Regions from separate parts of the Homo sapiens genome. Here all the other regions are linked to region 3. Evidence: fine-mapped expression QTL. A gene starts in region 3. Each other region holds a variant in brackets. All regions are shown on one strand. Distances are between the middles of the regions.

Region 1 (7,129 bases), 7.9 kb before region 3:
AACGCTGGAGGCTGAGAGGTATCCCCAGGTTCTTTTCTCGTGAGAGGGGCAGGCTGACTTTCACTCTCCTCCATGTGCTAGAGGCAGCTCCACCAACACTGGCTGCCCTGAGTGGATGCACCTGGCTCTGGAATTCCTGTCATTTGCTTTGGATCCAGGAGCCCCTGCCTCATGTAGCTACTTAACAGAAAGGAGGAATCCACCCAGGACATGCCCAGACGGGAGCCTCACAGGATGGACAGTGGTGTCTGGGGTCACGGGCAGCCCTGACCCAGCAGCGCCAGCACCAGCACACCCAGTGGGGAAGGCGGGGAGGCCCAAACGCCACCCACAGTTTGTTACTCCACTGGGTGGGACCCGGCACCCCTGCCTTCCTGACACCCTGGAGTCCCTGCCTCTTCCTAGAGCCCCCAAGCCCATCTGCCTCAGAGCATCCAGAGACAGACCTGGGGAGCCATTTCCTCAGGCCCTGGACAAGGAAACAGGGAATTCCAGGTTATGGGTGCCTGGGGCAGGTCTCAGGCAGGTGCTGGGAACCAGAGAGAGGGGTCACCGCGAGGCCTCAGGCCTGGCACCAGCACTTTGAGCCTCAGTTTACCAGCCCACGAGGTGCTGAGTCTGGACTGGATGACCTTCCCACCCCCAGTGACCTCTGCCCTTTCCCGAGCATGTCAGCTCTGCTCCAGCATCCTGGTGTGAGCGCAATGCCACTTTTTTTCTCAACAAATACGAAAGGAGGAAGGTGCCCCCAGGGCCCTGTGCCCTGAGGATGCCTGTGTGGAGGGGTCCATTTCATCACTGGTGTCACTCACAGGAAGGGACGAAGCCACCTGCCTTGACGGAGCTTACTCCACCTCCGCCGAAGGCCGGGGAGGTCCCTCACAGAGAACCTGAGGCCCAGCAGGCTGCAGAGGTGCTGGCATGGAATGACTGCTCAGACGCCCGGGGCCGGCAGAGAGGACGGATGTGGGGGAGGTGCACACTGAGGAGCCTCTCCTTGGAGGTGGAGACACGTGCACCACATGGACCAGGACACAGTCCACGAAGCCTCGCATCCCCCTGAGCTGCAGCTCAAGGGCCTCTCTCTGAGCCCAGAGTCCCACCCCTGGGAGGCAGCTGCCCCAGCTCTGAGGGAGGAGGGCATCCACCAGGCCCTCCATCTCCTGGGGGCACCAGCCCAGCCCAGAGGCTCTGCAGGACTCTGCACCTCCAATTCATGGCCAGGACTTTCTGGATGTATCTTAAGGACTGAGGACTCCACATCAGGGACCACACAAGACCGGGGTCCCGGACACGGGGGTTGGGGGTGAGCATGTCACCGGGATGGGCTGTGGCGTCACTCTGGTACTTCATCCGGACAGCCAGGGACCAAAGCCACGCCCTCAGCCCCACCCCACCCCTGCCTCACATGGCAACGCAGGGTCTGCAGATGCAGGAGAGTGAGAAGCATGGTAGCCAGGCAGACTAGAGGACCCGAGCTGGGGTTGAGCACCTCCCTGTCTACCCAGGGCATGGCCTGTGAGACTGCAGGTGGCCTAGTGTGTGCTGCAGGCTCAAGGTCCTGCCCCAGGGAGCATGACATTCAGGCCCAGAAATTGCATCGTGCTGCACACAGTCCAAGGGGATAACCCTGTGAAGTTCAGGTCACCAGCAGGCTTGGGGTCAAGACCGAGCTGCAGAGGACAGGTTTCTGGAAGGCACAGCATCATGGGTGGAGGGACTTGGAGCAAGGTCCTTAGCCCCGGGACCAGTGAATGTGTGCCCTTATAGGGAAAGGGGGTCTTTGCAGAAGCAAGTTAGCTGAAAATCATGAAGTGGAGAGGCTCCCCTGGATTAAAGGGGTGAGCCCTAATGTAATCACAAGTGTCCTTCTAGGAGGTTGGCAGAGGGAGACTGACATAGACAGAAGCCAGGTGAGGTGGGAAGCGGAGGCAGAGGCCGAGAGAGCAGACGCTACGCCCTGGCCCTGAAGACGGAGGAGGAGCCGAGAGCTCAGGGATGGAGAGACTGGAGGAGGCAGGGAAGTTCTCCCCGCAAGCCTGGAGGGAGCATGGCCTCCAGCACCCCCAGACCTTGGCCCTGCAGGATTCATCTGGACCTGTGGTATAAATGGTGTTTAAGCCACTGGGCTGTGCAAATTGTCATAGCAGCCATGGCGCATTCCTAGAGGGAGCCCTGGTGGGGACCCAGCAGGCAGCGACGGGGCCCTCACAAGCCTGTGAGCCACTCAGAGCCGCGAGAGTGGCTAGGCTTGGTGAGGTGCAGGCCACGCGCACCTCCACTAAGGCAGCCTTAGGGCCCACACTTCCTCTCTCTCTCTCTCTCTCTCTCTCTCTATCTCTCTCCCTCCCTCCTTCCCTCCCTCCCGCTCTCTTGGTTGGACAGCTCTCCATCATCCCCCTGGACACGACCACCTCCCAAGGCCGAGCTGGGGCGCTTTGCTCGAGGTGAGCACTGACATCCTGGGGGTGTGAGGGGCACCTGCCCAGCGGCCCCGTGTGCAGGATGGGCGGTGGGCCCTAGCTGGCACTGGGCATATGGCCCGGCTGGTGCCTGCAGGCTGCAGCTTTTCTGGGGTGGCTGGGATCAGTGAAGGCCTCCAGAGTCTGGGCCTGGGATCCCTGCAGTGCTGGCTGAGGACAGGCGGGGCTGGGCAGTGAGGGCACTGGGTCACTATCACCACCCACGGTTTATTACTTCACTAGGTGGGACCTGGCACCCCTGCCTTCCTGACACCCTGGAATCCCTGCCTCCTCCTACAGCCCCCAAGCCCATCTCCCTCAGAGCCTCCAGAGACAGACCTGGGGAGGCATTTCTTCTGCCCCCAGCAGAAGCCCGGGAGGCCGGGAAGGCACAGTGGGTCTAAAGGAGAGGATCCCAGGACTGCCTGAGGGGTGACTCCGACGAGGCAAGCATAGAGCCCACTGAGAAGCGGGGTGGGAGCCCCACCAGGGATGGGCTAGTTCCTCATGAAGGACCAGGACCCAGGAAGGACAAGGGGGCCTGCTGGGGCAGGGTCTGCTATGCCGGAGTCCCTGTGAGCCTGGCCCAGACCTGCCTCTCTCTTTCCTCATTGGTCCCCACAGGTCCGTGGTGGTTGCCGTATCGGGAGGCCCCATGGTGGCAGGGGTGGGACACCTGGTATACGTCGCCAGGTGTGTCCAATAGGCTCATGCTCACACCTTCTCCTGGCACCTGGGCAAAGCCTGAGCACCCAGGCACTGAAGTGAGGGCAAGGCCTCGGGGCCCCACAGGATGGCCGAGGAGACAGCTGCAGGGCGCCTGGGACCCCTGGGCTCAGGAGGTAGAAGGATACAGCCTGAAAACCCACACCACAAGCTCACCGGCCAGTGCAGGCCCACAGAGCTCGAGGAGGCAGCCCTGAGCCTCCCAGGGAGAGATGCTCTGTGCACGCCGGCACAGGCCCTGGGTTACAAACCCTAGGCACAGCCCAGGAGAGGCCCAGGCCCCAGTCCAGCAAGGGGTTGCAGGAAGCAAGAGGTCCCCGGCCACAGCATGAGATAAGCCCATCAAGCCAGGGCCAGGTGGGCAATGGGAGGCAGGCAGGGCTTGGGGGTGAGTCCCTGCTGCAGCGCCGTCCACTGTCGACCGGAGGAGTTTCTTCCCTGTGCGGAGTCCACGGGCCTCCTGTGAGTGTGTGCATGGGCACAAGTGTGTGTGTGGCTCTGCTGTGTGTCTGTACACACGTATGTTTTGGGTTTTTTTGTGTCTCAGACCACAGAGTCTGCCCCTCCCACCAAAGCCCAGGCAGAAGGATGAACCCACGCCCCTGGGGCCCAGGCCTCAGCAGCCTCTGCAGGATCATTGTTCCCAGTTGTCACTTGCCTTTGCCACAGCCCTATTTCTCCACAATTCCTTAAAGTCCTCAACATGCATTTAAGGCACAAAGGTGAAACTGCCCAGAAACATCTGACTCCGCCGTGGAACCCAGGAGCAAGCTGGGTTAGCTAAGGAGCGGGGCCGTTGGCAGAGGCTGGGGATCCAGGCTGAACTTTGGAGGAGGCATGTGCCAGCATGGGCTCCTGACTATGTCCTCCTGGGACAAACCCAAACCCACTCTTTGAATATGGGAGGGACTTTGCTGGCCCCGGCCCTGACCGCAGCACTTGGAAACTGAGGAGTGGTCGCCTCCTCCGTGTCACAGCTGCCCGTTCACCATCATAGAAGCAACTCTGTCACCTCCATGGGCCCCTCTGTGGCTGCTGCCTGGGTCCAAGCTGAGCCCAGCTGCCCAGGCCCAGAAGGAAAGCCCAGGCCAGGTGCCCAGCACAGAGGCAGTCACATACCCCGGGGAGAGCCACAGCAAGCAGCCAATGTTGCCCAGGAGAGGAGTAGCTGACAAGG[T/C]AGAACGTGAGCTGCCATCGGCTCGAGAGGCTTTGCTGGTCCTCCTGGGGCTCTGGACATGACCAGGAGGAGCGAGGGAAGAAGTCGCATGGTGGTCCCATCCTGGGTGGGGCCTGATGGCAGCTGGCCACCCGTCCCAGAGTGGCAGCCAGATGCCAGCGCCATTCCCACAGTCACATCATTGGTCACAGAATGCAGGACATAGAGTGTCTTCTTTCCATCACAGTGCTGTCCAGACCCATAGCCTAGGGTAGACCTGGAAGATTCAATGTCCACACCCGGGGCTGGAGCGTAGCCATGAGCCACGCCCCCTGCCCGTGCATGGAAAGCCAGCCCAAGCTCTGCTCCATCCCTAGCCAAAGTCAGTGTCCTTTCCCCTTCTCCCAAGTGAGCTCTAGCCACCTGCCTACCCTGCCATCTGAGGATGACAGCCTTCATTCCATTGGAACCTGGCTCTGCCACCAGCAGGCTTGCAGTCCTGGGCAGACTCCGTCACCTCTCTATGCCTCAGCCTTTCCATCTGCACAGGAGGAAGATGATGATGGTGGTGATGATGATGGCGATGGTTTCCTTTTGCATCTGAGGCAAGGACTAATTGAGATGATACACATCAGGCACTGGGTATGGTGCTGGTCCTTCCTGAGCACTCAATCTATGTGAGCTGTCCTTGTGAAATGGGTGTCACCACATTTCCCCACGCAGAACATCCTTTGTCTGCCATACTTGAAACGTCTGCCCCAATACTAACAGCTCCTCATGGAAGATGTGCACACCCACCCACCCTCATACTCCCAAAGGTGCCCGTGCTTTATCAAGCCAAAGTCCAGCCAGGAACTTTACAGCAGCATCCCTTTCCCTCTCCAAGCACCAAGGAGCAAGGCAAAGCACTACATCTTCCATCTGGAGGCAATGCCACCCTCTTCTCCCATTTTCACTGCCATCCCTAAGAGGCAGTGCTTCCCCAAAAGGTTCCATAGCAGCCTGCCTACAGCAACTCTGTTCACACGAGTTTCAGCATCCTTGCAGTGGCTCCCCTGCCATGCTGTGGCTCTTCATTCACCCTCTTCTCCTGCTCCCCGTGACAGGCATAGATTCTGAGTGATCTGGATACATTGCTTTGTTTAATAACATTACAGCTTCTGTGCTGAAAAAGATACAGCAGATAGAGAAGGCAATTGTTGAACACAAAATAGTGACAGCAGAGATGACGGCAAGTTGGCATTTTTCTTTTCTAGCAATAAAACTTAAAGCTGACTCAAGGAGAAATGGAAATCATAATTGGAACAGTAATCCTCAAGAAAGCATTAAGATTATTAAATAATTGCCCTCACAGATGACTTCAGGCCAAGATGGCTTTATGGGTGAAGTTTAGACTTTCACAAAACTAATCAGTTCCCATAAGAACTGCTCCAGGATTTGGAGGAACATGGGAAAGTCTATTAAAGGGATCACAATTCACAGTCCCCAGAGTAAAACATGGGCTAACTTGCATTTTGGCAAAGAGCCAAATGTTATAAATGACATCCTAGAAGGCCAAATTCTGTCCATCTCGTTGAACAAGGACTTACACCAGGAATTTAGAACTATTTATAGCTCATCCCACCACTCAGGCCAATGATGACCCATGATCATCTCACCAGAAATGGAAAGACTCAGATGATTAATAGAGTCTCAATTTCTCTGAGACATCTAAGAGCCCAGCCCAAGCCCAGACCCAGGAGGGCACCCAGGCCTGGACAGAGAACACTGATATCACACCAGCCCTCCAGAGGGAAGCAGAGACTCCTTCAAGCTCTGGAAACACAGGCCCAGACAGCTGCCTAAAGTTGGGCAGGCTTCACTGCAAACCCAAATCATGAAGCTAGGTAACACCTTTACAGATTCTTTACATTTAAAAATCATCAAAACAAGAGTAAATAATAAACTCAAATAATATTAATCTAATATGTAAAGGTCTTGTACCATTATTATGCAAACAACATACATAAGCTAATAAGAAAAAGAACAAATCCCTTAAGAAATCGGCAAAAAGGATATAACACAATTTCTAAAAGAAAACAAATGGCTAGCACACATAAGGAAAACACTTTGTGAACAGACATTCTTCAGAACATTATTTATAATTATAAAATAGTTGAAAGCAAGATAGTGCCTGAAGAAATTATGGTGCATACATTAGTGGGACTATTCTGCAAACATTCCCAATTATACTTGTCACATATCTGTGATAACGTGACAGCCAGCATTCATGGGGTGACCTCATTTGGTAAAAGGGTGCAAAGCTCAACACGCATTGTGAGATGACTGTGGTGTAAAATTAGTGGGATTATTCCGCAAACATTCCCAATTATACTTACCGCATATCTGTGATAACATGACAGCATTCATGGGGTGACCTCATTTGGTAAAAGGGTGCAAAGCTCAACACGCATTGTGAGATGACTGGTGTAAATACAAAGACCAAACTGTGAAAAGGAGTCCATCAATTAATCGATGCTTACCTTCAGTTTTGGGCTAATTTTTAAAGTATGCTATAAGCATATGCTCCTGTTATAACAGAATGGAGGGATTATGAGAGATGATGCAGGTGTGTCCTGGGCCTCCCCTGGCCCACTGGGCCCTAGAGATGCCTTCCCAGGCATCGCTGTCAGGGCTTCCCTCAGAGGGAGTCCTGTATTGACCTCACCACCAAGGTCTGGAGCAGGGGATCCTTAGATATTGGTTGGGGTTATCTCACCTTAGGTCTGAATTTGGGGTTGTCTTA
Region 2 (7,129 bases), 880 kb before region 3:
GTTGGAAATGTTATAATTTCCTTATTTTTAGAGGTCACATAATATTCCATTGTATGTGTATACATTTGCTTTATACACCCATTTACCTACGGTCACTAACTTTAAAAAAATTCTAGGCCATTATGAATAATCTTGTAATAAACATATTTTTTACTTACTGATTTTATTTCCTTTGAATACGCAGCCAGAAGTGGGATCACCAGATCACGTAATAGTTTTACTTTCAATTTATAAAATAACTTTTACTACCACTCCACTGAATAATTCTCTTTTCACCAGCTAACTGTCAGCATTTTGTTATCTTTTGTGTCTGTGATAATAGTCATGGTAATGAACGTGAGGTGATATCTCATTGTGGTTTTGATTTGGATTCCCCTGATGATTAGCAATGTGGAACACCTTTCCATGTCCTGCTGGCCATGCATATGTCTTCCCTTGAATACAATGTCTATGTACAGTTTTGCCCTCTTAAAAATCAGGGGTTTTTTTTGCTATTGTATGGGTTCTTTACACATTTAGATAGATCCCTTTGTCAGATATATAGCTTCAAGTAATTTATTTGTCTATGATTTTGGTGTCGAATCCAAATAAATCATTTTCCAGATCAACTCTGGAAAGCTTCTTTTTTCCCTGTTTTCTTCTATGAGTTTACAATTTTAGATATCATATTATATCCAAGCCTTGAGTACATTTTTAGGTGATTTTTGTATATGAGATGAGATGAGGTCTCATTTTTTTCTGCATATGGATGCTCAGTTTTTACACCATTTGTTAAAAAGGCAATCTTTTCCTTATTGTGTGTCCTTGGAACAAAAAATCTGGGAGATACACAAAAGAGGAAAATCTTAGACCAATATTCCTGATGATAGACCTAAAAATCTTCAAGAAAATACTAGGAAATTGAATATAGCAGCACATTAAAAAGTTATTACATTATGATCCAGTAGATTTTACTCCTTTCATGCAAGGCTAGTTCAACATACACAAATCAATAAAGGTGCTCCACCACATAAGCAGAATCAAAAGCAAAAACTATATAATTATCTCAATAGATCCAGAGAAACTTTCAATAAGATTCAACATTCTTCATGATAAAAACCTTCAACAGACTAGACATCAAAGAAACTTAGCTTAAAATGATAAGAGCCATGTATGACAAACCCACAACTGACACCATACTGAATCAACAAAAGCTCAAATCATTCCCCTTCATAACTGGAACAAAACAAGAATACCCACTCTCACCACTCCTATTCAACATAGTAGTGGATGTTCTAGCCAGAGAAATCAAACAAGAGAAAGAAATAAAAGGCATCCCCACAAGTAAATAAGAATTCAAACTATCTATTTTTGCTGTTGATAGGATCCTATGCATAGAAAATTCTATAGACTCTGCCAAAAGAATCCTAGAATTGATAAACAACTTTAGTAATGTTTCAGGATACAGAATAAATATACGAAAATCAGTAGCTTTTTTATACACCAACGACATCCAGGCATAGAGAAAAATAAATGACACGATCCCACTTACAACATCTACAAAAAAAGAAATACCTAGGAATACAGCTAACCAAGGAGGTGAAAGATCTCTACAAGAAGAACTACAACCTCTCCAGCACATGTTGTTTCCTGACTTTTTAATGATCGCCATTCTAGCTGGTGTGAGATGGTATCTCATTGTGGTTTTGATTTGCATTTCTCTGATGGCGAGTGATGATGAGCAGTTTTTCATGTGTCTGTTGACTGCATAAATGTCTTCTTTCGAGAAGTGTCTGTTCATATCCTTCACCCACTTTTTGATGGGGTTGTTTGTTTTTTTCTTGTAAATTTGTTTGAGTTCATTGTAGATTCTGGACATTAGCCCTTTGTCAGATGAGTAGATTGCAAACATTTTCTCCCATTCGTTAGGTTGCTTGTTCACTCTGTTGGTAGTTTCTTTTGCTGTGCAGAAGCTCTTTAGTTTAATTAGATCCCATTTGTCAATTTTGGCTTGTGTTGCCATTGCTTTTGGTGTTTTAGACATGAAGTCCTTGCCCATGCTTATGTCCTGAATGGTATTGCCTAGATTTTCTTCTAGGGTTTCTATGGTTTTAGGTCTAACATTTAAGTTTTTAATCCATCTTGAATTAATTTTTCTATAAGGTGTAAGGAAGAGATCCAGTTTCAGCTTTCTACATATGGCTAGCCAGTTTTCCCAGCACCATTTATTAAATAGGGAATCCTTTCCCCATTTCTTGTTTTTGTCAGGTTTGTCAAAGATCAGATAGTTGTAGATATGTGGCATTATTTCTGAGGGCTCTGTTCTGTTCCATTGGTCTATATCTCTGGTTTGGTACCAGTACCATGCTGTTTTGGTTACTGTAGCCTTGGAAACAACAGGTAACAACAGGTGCTGGAGAGGATGTGGAGAAATAGGAACACTTTTACACTGTTGGTGGGACTGTAAACTAGTTCAAACATTGTGGAAGTCAGTATGGCAATTTCTCAGGGATCTAGAACTAGAAATACCATTTGACCCAGCCATTCCATTACTGGGTATATACCAAAAGGATTATAAACCATGCTGCTATAAAAACACATGCACACGTATGTTTATTGTGGCACTATTCACAATAGCAAAGACTTGGAACCAACTCAGATGTCCAACAATGATAGACTGGATTAAGAAAATGTGGCACATATACACCATGGAATACTATGCAGCCATAAAAAATGATGAGTTCATGTCCTTTGTAGGGACATGGATGAAGCTGGAAACCATCATTCTCAGCAAACTATCGCAAGGACAAAAAACCAAACACCGCATATTCTCACTCATAGGTGAGAATTGAACAATGAGAACACATGGACACAGGAAGGGGAACATCACACACCGGGGCCTGTTGTGGGGTGGGGGGAGGAGGGAGGGATAGCATTAGGAGATACACGTAATGCTAAATGATGAGTTAATGGGTGCAGCAGACCAACATGGCACATGTATACATATGTAACAAACCTGCACATTGTGCACATGTACCCTAAAACTTAAAGTATAATTAAAAAAAACAATTACAACGAAAATCCTTAATGTCTCTTGAGTAGGTAGAGAACATATATTTTATCTAAGTAACTTGCTCTAAACTGCAAACCAAAATAAGATGATTCAATAAAGTATTTTGTAAACTAGTCTTTAGCAAAAAAAAAAAAA[G/AAG]AACTACAAAACACTGCAGAAAGAAATCAGAAAGTAAACAAATAAATTGAAAAAAAAATTCCATGCTCATGGAATGGGAGAAATAATATTGCAAAAATGGCAATATTATCCTTCAATATTTATCGATTCAATGTTATTATCAAAATACCAGTTTTATTCTTCTAGAAATATAAGAAAAGTATTCTAAAATTTGTATGTAACCAAAAAAGAACAAAAACAGCCAAAGTAATCCTCAGCCAAAAGAACAATGCCAGGGACATCACACTATTTGACTTCAAACTCTACTATAAAGCCACAGTAACAAAAACTGTTTGGTACTTGTACAAGAATAAACACATAGACAAATGAAATAGAATAGAAAACTCAGAAATAAAGCTGCACACCCACAACCATCTGTTTTTTGACAACCCTGAAAAAAATAAACAAGCAATGGGGAAAAGACAACCTAGTCAATAAATGGTGCTGGGATAACTTGCTAGCCATATGCAGAAGATGGGAACTTGACTCGTGACTATCACCATATGAAAAAGAAAATTAACTCAAAATGGATTATAGCTTTAACTAAGACTTCAAACTACAAAAAGCTAGGAAGACAACCTAGGAATACTCTTCTCTGCATTGGCCTTGGCAAAGAATTACTGGCTCTGAGACCAGGCATTTTTTGTAACAGTGATTTATTTTCTGGGGTACATATCATGGAGTGGGATTGCTGATTGAACGATAGATCTATTTTAGTTGCTTGATAAGCCTTTACAATTTTTTTCACATAGGTTGCACTAATTTACATTACCAACAACAGTGTATAAATGCATTTTCTCTGAATTCTCATCCATATCTATAATTTTTTGACTTCATAATAATAGGCACTTTGACTGATGTAAAGTTGTGTCTCACTGTTGTTTTAATATTAATTTATCTAATGATTAATGTTGTTCAGCTTTTTATTTCCATATGCTTTTTGGCCATTTGAATATCTTCTTCACAAAATGTCTGTTGATGTCTTTTGCCCACATTTTAATGGTGTAATTTATTTATTTGTTGTTGTTGCTGAGTTGTCTGTGTTCTTGTTAGATTCTAGATGTTAGTTATTTATTGCACAGTAATGTAATAAATCTAAAAGTCAGGAAACAACAGGTGCTGGAGAGGATGTGGAGAAATAGGAACACTTTTACACTGTTGGTGGGACTGTAAACTAGTTCAACCATTGTGGAAGTCAGTGTGGCGATTCCTCAGGGATCTAGAACTAGAAATATCATTTGACCCAGCAATCCCATTACTGAGTATATACCATCCCATGACTGGGTATATACCCAAAGGATTATAAATCATGCTGCTATAAAGACACATGCACACGTATGTTTATTGTAGCACTATTCACAATAGCAAAGACTTGGAACCAACCCAAGTGTCCAACAATGATAGACTGGATTAAGAAAATGTGGCACATATACACCATGGAATACTATGCAGCCATAAAAGATGATGAGTTCACGTCCTTTGTAGGGACATGGATGAAGCTGGAAACCATCACTCTCAGCAAACTATCGCAAGGACAAAAAACCAAACACCACATGTTCTCACTCATAGGTGGGAATTGAACAATGAGAGCACATGGACACAGGAAGGGGAACATCACACACTGGGGCCTGTTGTGGGGTTGGAGGGGCGGTGGGGAGGGATAGCATTAGGAGAAATACCTAATGTTAAATGATGAGTTAATGGGTGCAGCACACCAACATGGCACACATATACATATGCAACAAACCTGCACATTGTGCACACATACCCTAAAACTTAAAGTGTAATAAAAAAAATAAAATTAAAAAAATCAATTGCAAAAAAACTGTTGAAACTATGAAAATATGAGGTAATTAAACAACACAATTTTGACCAATCATTGGCTCACCAATAAAATTAAGATATTAATTTTTAAAAATACAAAGAAAAATGAAGCCACAACATACCAAACCCTCTGAGATACAGGAAGAGCAGTACTAAGAGCTTATAGTTCTAAATGTCTATGAAAAAATAGAAAGATTATAAACTAGCAATCTATTGATTTACTTCAAGGAACTAGATATTTTAGAACAAACCAACCCCAGAGCTAGAAGAAGAAAATAAATAAAGATCATGGCAGATTTCAAAAATATTGAAACAAAAAAGCAAAATATAAGGAATCAACAAAACAAAATGTGGTTATTTTAAAACATGAACACAATTGATAGAGCACTAACTAGGTCAACAAAAAAAAAAAGACAGAAGATTCAAGTTAGCACAAGCAGAAATGATAAAGGTGGTATTATAACTGACCCAATGGAAATACAAAAGATTATCAAGACATACTGAATATGTCTATGCTCACAAACTAGAAAATCTAGAGGAAATCAATAAATTTCTGGAAATATTCAACTACCCCCCAAAATTGAACCAGGAAGGAAAAGAAATCCTAAATAGACCAATGCGAGTAATAAGACTGAATCAGAAACTGAAAATCTCCCAACCCCAAAAGCCCAGAACCAGATAAATTCAAGGTCTAATTTTACCAGATGTACCATTCTTACTGGAACTATTCCAAAGGATTAAAGAGAAGAGATTCTTTCCCACCTTTGTCTAAAATACTCGTATCACCTAATACCAAAATCAGGCAAGGATACAACTACAACAACAAAAAGCTACAGGGAAATATCCCTAATGAACATAGATACAAAATAGTAAACAGAATACTAGCTAGCTGAAACCAACAGCACAATAAAAGATAATACATCATGACCAATTGGGTTTTATTCCAGGGATGCAAAGCTTGTCTAAAATAAACACATCAATAAATATGATTCAACATATAACATAATTAAAAACAGAAAACATAAGACCATCTCAATGAATGCAAAAAAGTCATTCAATAAAATTCAATATCCCTTCATGAAAAATTCCTCAACAAGCTTAGCATCAAAGAAACCTACCTCAAAACTATAAAAGCCACATACAACAACCAACAAAAAACTCTTAAATAAATCAATAGAACAGGGATCTTCTTAAATTTAGTAAAAACCTATGCAACTGATTTATTCAATATGCTGGACTTGGTAGTGAAGAAATGAATGACTTTAACTAAAAAAAAAAGCCACATATAACAAAACAACATTATATGGAATGAGAAAAAGTTGCAAAAATATTCCTGAAGAACGTGAGCAAGAATGCACACTTTCACCACTCCTACTGGACGTATTACTGAAAGTCCTAGCCAGAATAATCAGAAAGGAAAAAAGAAATGTATGTTTCAAGTTCCAAGCTAAGGAATCCAGGAGTGGCAGACCCAGAGACTTGTTTTTTAATCTATGAATAACATCCAAACCCCTGACCGATCCCTTGGAACACAGGATTTAGGGGTGATTGAGGCTCTTTCTTTTGGGTTAAATGAAAGTTGCTAGGTGGAGGGTGTTAAGTAAAAATTACTACATAAGCTGCATAGTTTTGTCAAATGGTTGTAGTTTTCTTGTCCAGCCTGCTGTTCCTGAACCACCCTATATGAAAGCCCTCAATAAACTATATGTCTTGTTCACTGGTTTGGCCTGTTGTACACGATGCCAGTCCTATTGGAGTCCATATTGGTCTGGCGTGACATCCAGTCAACCTGGTAAAAGGTCCAAAAAAAATCTCATGAGCACCCAGACAATGGAATCTAAAAAGAGGAGACCCCTGCAGAAACCTTGGGCAGGCTGTTAATTTCTACGTGGGGCCCAACAGCCGTTATCCATGATGGATGGGGCCCAGTGCCTGAGTATGGGGATACCGCCACAATGCCAAAAGTTCTGGAAGAACCTCTTCAGTGGGTGCATCTTACAAAGTGAAAGTCAGATGTCCAGGCTGTTGCATTATCAGGTGAGTGGTTCTTCCTGACTGCACTCTGAGAAGCCACTGAGACAGTGCTCACTGTGTATGCTA
Region 3 (7,129 bases):
GCCCCCATCTGACCTTACAGGGCCAAGGCTGGGGCCCTGGGTTCCCCTCAAGGCGCAGCAGGACTGGAGCCCCAGGCAGTGCAGGAGTGGCCAAAGCTGGGGCTTCCTCCAGAGCCCCCAAGCATCACGGCACCAAGAAGGGTAGGACCCTGGCCTGAGGAATTGGCACCAAAGCCCCAGAAACTACCCTGGACACCATGGAGAGAGGCCTGGAGGGGAAGCACCAGGCACTGCCTCCCCTTCTGATCCCACCTGAGGTGGCTGCCAAGCCCAGAGAGCCGCTCTGATGTCCCCCAGCCCTGCAGCCCAGGGATACCTGTACTGTGCCCCTGGGGGACCCCTGGCCAGTCTGTGCAAAGAAGTCACCACCCTACACTCAGAGACAGTGGGGGTCCTCGTCCCACATCCTCAGAGCATGGCCCGGCTGCTGCAGGGATGGTCTCCTGGTCCTCAGAGCATGGCCCGGCTGCTGCAGGGATGGTCTCCTGGTCCTCAGAGCATGGCCCAGCTGCTGCAGGGATGGTCTCCTGGAGGCCCCCCAGTGCTCTATTGTCAGGGCTCCCTCCACCCCCCGCACCAAGAGAGAGCCAGACCCCAGCAAGGCTTCCAGTGGCTTCAGGTCACACCCCTAGGCTGACCCCAGCCCCATTAACACCTGCCTGAGAAAGCTCCACGCACCAGAACTGACCGTCTGCTCCAACTCTTGACCTCCCGTTCTCAGGGCGTCTGCTGAAAAGGCTGCAACTGCACATCCTTCCTCCGTCCGTTCCCGATGTCCGTGTGTCTCCTGTGGCCAGGAAGGTCTTTCTCGGGACCTGAGAGCCGCTCCCTGAAGTGTCCCCATTGGGAAGGATGGGGCCTGTGTCTCCAGGCTCTGGGAGGACAGAATCCTGACCTCAACAGTGGCCGGCACGGACACAACTGGCCCCATCCCGGGGACGCTGACCAGCGCTGGGCAACTTTTCCCTTCCCCGACGACTGAGCCCCGAGCACCCTCCCTGCTCCCCTACCACCTCCCTTTACAAGGCTGTGGCCTCTGCACAGATGATAATGGAGCTTGGCTCATTCCCCTAGAGTCGGTAGGGAGTTAAGGACAAAACTCAGTTTCCTCCACCTGAACTCAAGTCTGCCTATGTTTACCTAATCACACCTGGTGGACAGTTTGGACAAACTTGCACACTCAGAGACACAGACACTTCTAGAAATCATTATCTCCCTGCCCCGGGGACCCCACTCCAGCAGAAGTCTGCTAGGCACTGGCCTGGGCCCTCCTGCTGTCCTAGGAGGCTGCTGACCTCCTGCCTGGCTCCTGTCCCCAGGTCCAGAGTCAGAGCAGACTCCAGGGACGCTGCAGGCTAGGAAGCCGCCCCCTCCAGGCGAGGGTCTAGTGCAGGTGCCCAGGACAAGAAAGATTGTGAATGCAGGAATGACTGGGCCACACCCCTCCCGTGCACGCCCCCTCCTGCCCTGCACCCCACAGCCCAGCCCCCCGTGCTGGATGCCCCCCCACAGCAGAGGTGCTGTTCTGTGATCCCCTGGGAAAGACGCCCTCAACCTCCACCCTGTCCCACGGCCCAAGGAAGACAAGACACAGGCCCTCTCCTCACAGTCTCCCCACCTGGCTCCTGCTGGGACCCTCAAGGTGTGAACAGGGAGGATGGTTGTCTGGGTGGCCCCTAGGAGCCCAGATCTTCACTCCACAGACCCCAACCCAAGCACCCCCTTCTGCAGGGCCCAGCTCATCCCCCTCCTCCTCCCTCTGCTCTCCTCTCGTCGCCTCTACGGGAAATCCGGGACTCAGCAGTAACCCTCAGGAAGCAGGGCCCAGGCGCCGTTTAATAGGAGGCTTCCTCACAATGAAACTTTTAGAAAGCCTTGACTACAATGATGACCTTGGTGTGGCTGTGAACACTGTCAGCTCCCACAGCTGCTGCAGCAAAAAATGTCCATAGACAGGGTGGGGGCCCGGGGTCGTCTGCTGTCCTGCTCAGCCCACAGCACGCATGGAGGATCTGAGGTGCCACACCTGACGCCCAGGCCAGAACATGCCTCCCTCCAGGGTGACCTGCCATGTCCTGCATTGCTGGAGGGACAGGGGCAGCCTATGAGGATCTGGGGCCAGGAGATGAATCCTATTAACCCAGAGGAAAACTAACAGGACCCAAGCACCCTCCCCGTTGAAGCTGACCTGCCCAGAGGGGCCTGGGCCCACCCCACACACCGGGGCGGAATGTGTACAGGCCCCGGTCTCTGTGGGTGTTCCGCTAACTGGGGCTCCCAGTGCTCACCCCACAACTAAAGCGAGCCCCAGCCTCCAGAGCCCCCGAAGGAGATGCCGCCCACAAGCCCAGCCCCCATCCAGGAGGCCCCAGAGCTCAGGGCGCCGGGGCAGATTCTGAACAGCCCCGAGTCACGGTGGGTACAACTGGAACGACCACCGTGAGAAAAACTGTGTCCAAAACTCTCTCCTGGCCCCTGCTGGAGGCCGCGCCAGAGAGGGGAGCAGCCGCCCCGAACCTAGGTCCTGCTCAGCTCACACGACCCCCAGCAGCCAGAGCACAGTGGAGTCCCCACTGAACCCCACTGAATGGTGAGGACGGGGACCAGGGCTCCAGGGGGTCATGGAAGGGGCTGGACCCCATCCTACTGCTATGGTCCCAGTGCTCCTGGCCAGAACTGACCCTACCACCGACAAGAGTCCCTCAGGGAAACGGGGGTCACTGGCACCTCCCAGCATCAACCCCAGGCAGCACAGGCATAAACCCCACATCCAGAGCCGACTCCAGGAGCAGAGACACCCCAGTACCCTGGGGGACACCGACCCTGATGACTCCCCACTGGAATCCACCCCAGAGTCCACCAGGACCAAAGACCCCGCCCCGGTCTCTGTCCCTCACTCAGGACCTGCTGCGGGGCGGGCCATGAGACCAGACTCGGGCTTAGGGAACACCACTGTGGCCCCAACCTCGACCAGGCCACAGGCCCTTCCTTCCTGCCCTGCGGCAGCACAGACTTTGGGGTCTGTGCAGAGAGGAATCACAGAGGCCCCAGGCTGAGGTGGTGGGGGTGGAAGACCCCCAGGAGGTGGCCCACTTCCCTTCCTCCCAGCTGGAACCCACCATGACCTTCTTAAGATAGGGGTGTCATCCGAGGCAGGTCCTCCATGGAGCTCCCTTCAGGCTCCTCCCTGGTCCTCACTAGGCCTCAGTCCCGGCTGTGGGAATGCAGCCACCACAGGCACACCAGGCAGCCCAGACCCAGCCAGCCTGCAGTGCCCAAGCCCACATTCTGGAGCAGAGCAGGCTGTGTCTGGGAGAGTCTGGGCTCCCCACCGCCCCCCGCACACCCCACCCACCCCTGTCCAGGCCCTATGCAGGAGGGTCAGAGCCCCCCATGGGGTATGGACTTAGGGTCTCACTCACGCGGCTCCCCTCCTGGGTGAAGGGGTCTCATGCCCAGATCCCCACAGCAGAGCTGGTCAAAGGTGGAGGCAGTGGCCCCAGGGCCACCCTGACCTGGACCCTCAGGCTCCTCTAGCCCTGGCTGCCCTGCTGTCCCTGGGAGGCCTGGACTCCACCAGACCACAGGTCCAGGGCACCGCCCATAGGTGCTGCCCACACTCAGTTCACAGGAAGAAGATAAGCTCCAGACCCCCAAGACTGGGACCTGCCTTCCTGCCACCGCTTGTAGCTCCAGACCTCCGTGCCTCCCCCGACCACTTACACACGGGCCAGGGAGCTGTTCCACAAAGATCAACCCCAAACCGGGACCGCCTGGCACTCGGGCCGCTGCCACTTCCCTCTCCATTTGCTCCCAGCACCTCTGTGCTCCCTCCCTCCTCCCTCCTTCAGGGGAACAGCCTGTGCAGCCCCTCCCTGCACCCCACACCCTGGGGAGGCCCAACCCTGCCTCCAGCCCTTTCTCCCCCGCTGCTCTTCCTGCCCATCCAGACAACCCTGGGGTCCCATCCCTGCAGCCTACACCCTGGTCTCCACCCAGACCCCTGTCTCTCCCTCCAGACACCCCTCCCAGGCCAACCCTGCACATGCAGGCCCTCCCCTTTTCTGCTGCCAGAGCCTCAGTTTCTACCCTCTGTGCCTACCCCCTGCCTCCTCCTGCCCACAACTCGAGCTCTTCCTCTCCTGGGGCCCCTGAGCCATGGCACTGACCGTGCACTCCCACCCCCACACTGCCCATGCCCTCACCTTCCTCCTGGACACTCTGACCCTGCTCCCCTCTTGGACCCAGCCCTGGTATTTCCAGGACAAAGGCTCACCCAAGTCTTCCCCATGCAGGCCCTTGCCCTCACTGCCCGGTTACACGGCAGCCTCCTGTGCACAGAAGCAGGGAGCTCAGCCCTTCCACAGGCAGAAGGCACTGAAAGAAATCGGCCTCCAGCACCCTGATGCACGTCCGCCTGTGTCTCTCACTGCCCGCACCTGCAGGGAGGCTCGGCACTCCCTGTAAAGACGAGGGATCCAGGCAGCAACATCATGGGAGAATGCAGGGCTCCCAGACAGCCCAGCCCTCTCGCAGGCCTCTCCTGGGAAGAGACCTGCAGCCACCACTGAACAGCCACGGAGCCCGCTGGATAGTAACTGAGTCAGTGACCGACCTGGAGGGCAGGGGAGCAGTGAACCGGAGCCCAGACCATAGGGACAGAGACCAGCCGCTGACATCCCGAGCCCCTCACTGGCGGCCCCAGAACACCGCGTGGAAACAGAACAGACCCACATTCCCACCTGGAACAGGGCAGACACTGCTGAGCCCCCAGCACCAGCCCTGAGAAACACCAGGCAACGGCATCAGAGGGGGCTCCTGAGAAAGAAAGGAGGGGAGGTCTCCTTCACCAGCAAGTACTTCCCTTGACCAAAAACAGGGTCCACGCAACTCCCCCAGGACAAAGGAGGAGCCCCCTGTACAGCACTGGGCTCAGAGTCCTCTCCAACACACCCTGAGTTTCAGACAAAAACCCCCTGGAAATCATAGTATCAGCAGGAGAACTAGCCAGAGACAGCAAGAGGGGACTCAGTGACTCCCGCGGGGACAGGAGGATTTTGTGGGGGCTCGTGTCACTGTGAGGATATTGTAGTAGTACCAGCTGCTATGCCCACAGTGACACAGCCCCATTCCCAAAGCCCTGCTGTAAACGCTTCCACTTCTGGAGCTGAGGGGCTGGGGGGAGCGTCTGGGAAGTAGGGCCTAGGGGTGGCCATCAATGCCCAAAACGCACCAGACTCCCCCCCAGACATCACCCCACTGGCCAGTGAGCAGAGTAAACAGAAAATGAGAAGCAGCTGGGAAGCTTGCACAGGCCCCAAGGAAAGAGCTTTGGCGGGTGTGCAAGAGGGGATGCGGGCAGAGCCTGAGCAGGGCCTTTTGCTGTTTCTGCTTTCCTGTGCAGATAGTTCCATAAACTGGTGTTCAAGATCGATGGCTGGGAGTGAGCCCAGGAGGACAGTGTGGGAAGGGCACAGGGAAGGAGAAGCAGCCGCTATCCTACACTGTCATCTTTCAAGAGTTTGCCCTGTGCCCACAATGCTGCATCATGGGATGCTTAACAGCTGATGTAGACACAGCTAAAGAGAGAATCAGTGAAATGGATTTGCAGCACAGATCTGAATAAATTCTCCAGAATGTGGAGCCACACAGAAGCAAGCACAAGGAAAGTGCCTGATGCAAGGGCAAAGTACAGTGTGTACCTTCAGGCTGGGCACAGACACTCTGAAAAGCCTTGGCAGGAACTCCCTGCAACAAAGCAGAGCCCTGCAGGCAATGCCAGCTCCAGAGCCCTCCCTGAGAGCCTCATGGGCAAAGATGTGCAGAACATATGTTTGTCATAGCCCCAAACTGAGAATGAAGCAAACAGCCATCTGAAGGAAAACAGGCAAATAAACGATGGCAGGTTCATGAAATGCAAACCCAGACAGCCAGAAGGACAACAGTGAGGGTTACAGGTGACTCTGTGGTTGAGTTCATGACAATGCTGAGTAATTGGAGTAACAAAGGAAAGTCCAAAAAATACTTTCAATGTGATTTCTTCTAAATAAAATTTACAGCCGGCAAAATGAACTATCTTCTTAAGGGATAAACTTTCCACTAGGAAAACTATAAGGAAAATCAAGAAAAGGATGATCACATAAACACAGTGGTCGTTACTTCTACTGGGGAAGGAAGAGGGTATGAACTGAGACACACAGGGTTGGCAAGTCTCCTAACAAGAAGAGAACAAATACATTACAGTACCTTGAAAACAGCAGTTAAAATTCTAAATTGCAAGAAGAGGAAAATGCACACAGCTGTGTTTAGAAAATTCTCAGTCCAGCACTGTTCATAATAGCAAAGACATTAACCCAGGTTGGATAAATAAACGATGACACAGGCAATTGCACAATGATACAGACATACATTCAGTATATGAGACATTGATGATGTATCCCCAAAGAAATGACTTTAAAGAGAAAAGGCCTGATATGTGGTGGCACTCACCTCCCTGGGCATCCCCGGACAGGCTGCAGGCACACTGTGTGGCAGGGCAGGCTGGTACCTGCTGGCAGCTCCTGGGGCCTGATGTGGAGCAGGCACAGAGCCGTATCCCCCCGAGGACATATACCCCCAAGGACGGCACAGTTGGTACATTCCGGAGACAAGCAACTCAGCCACACTCCCAGGCCAGAGCCCGAGAGGGACGCCCATGCACAGGGAGGCAGAGCCCAGCTCCTCCACAGCCAGCAGCACCTGTGCAGGGGCCGCCATCTGGCAGGCACAGAGCATGGGCTGGGAGGAGGGGCAGGGACACCAGGCAGGGTTGGCACCAACTGAAAATTACAGAAGTCTCATACATCTACCTCAGCCTTGCCTGACCTGGGCCTCACCTGACCTGGACCTCACCTGGCCTGGACCTCACCTGGCCTAGACCTCACCTCTGGGCTTCACCTGAGCTCGGCCTCACCTGACTTGGACCTTGCCTGTCCTGAGCTCACATGATCTGGGCCTCACCTGACCTGGGTTTCACCTGACCTGGGCTTCACCTGACCTGGGCCTCATCTGACCTGGGCCTCACTGGCCTGGACCTCACCTGGCCTGGGCTTCACCTGGCCTCAGGCCTCATCTGCACCTGCTCCAGGTC

Evidence for each region. PIP is the estimated chance that this variant, and not a neighbour inherited with it, causes the effect. A credible set is the group of variants that fine-mapping cannot tell apart.
Region 1: its variant is the best candidate, but not a certain one, in a credible set for the expression of FAM30A in whole blood (INTERVAL, PIP 0.62).
Region 2: its variant is the best candidate, but not a certain one, in a credible set for the expression of FAM30A in whole blood (INTERVAL, PIP 0.83).

What each region holds. Positions count from the first base shown.
Region 1 is chr14:105,922,716-105,929,844 of GRCh38, reverse strand. FAM30A (family with sequence similarity 30 member A) reads right to left here. Exons shown (of 6, transcript NR_026800.2): 5 at 6,723-6,830; 6 at 1-5,509. It also overlaps IGH. Among named protein-coding and RNA genes, the nearest start is that of FAM30A, 8.3 kb to the right of the region's middle. The variant T/C (reference allele first, on the strand shown) is at 4,366.
Region 2 is chr14:106,792,739-106,799,867 of GRCh38, reverse strand. It overlaps IGH. Among named protein-coding and RNA genes, the nearest start is that of MIR5195, 55 kb to the left of the region's middle. The variant G/AAG (reference allele first, on the strand shown) is at 3,188.
Region 3 is chr14:105,914,808-105,921,936 of GRCh38, reverse strand. FAM30A (family with sequence similarity 30 member A) reads right to left here and starts at 3,958. Exons shown (of 6, transcript NR_026800.2): 1 at 3,120-3,958; 2 at 679-787. It also overlaps IGH, IGHD2-2 and IGHD1-1.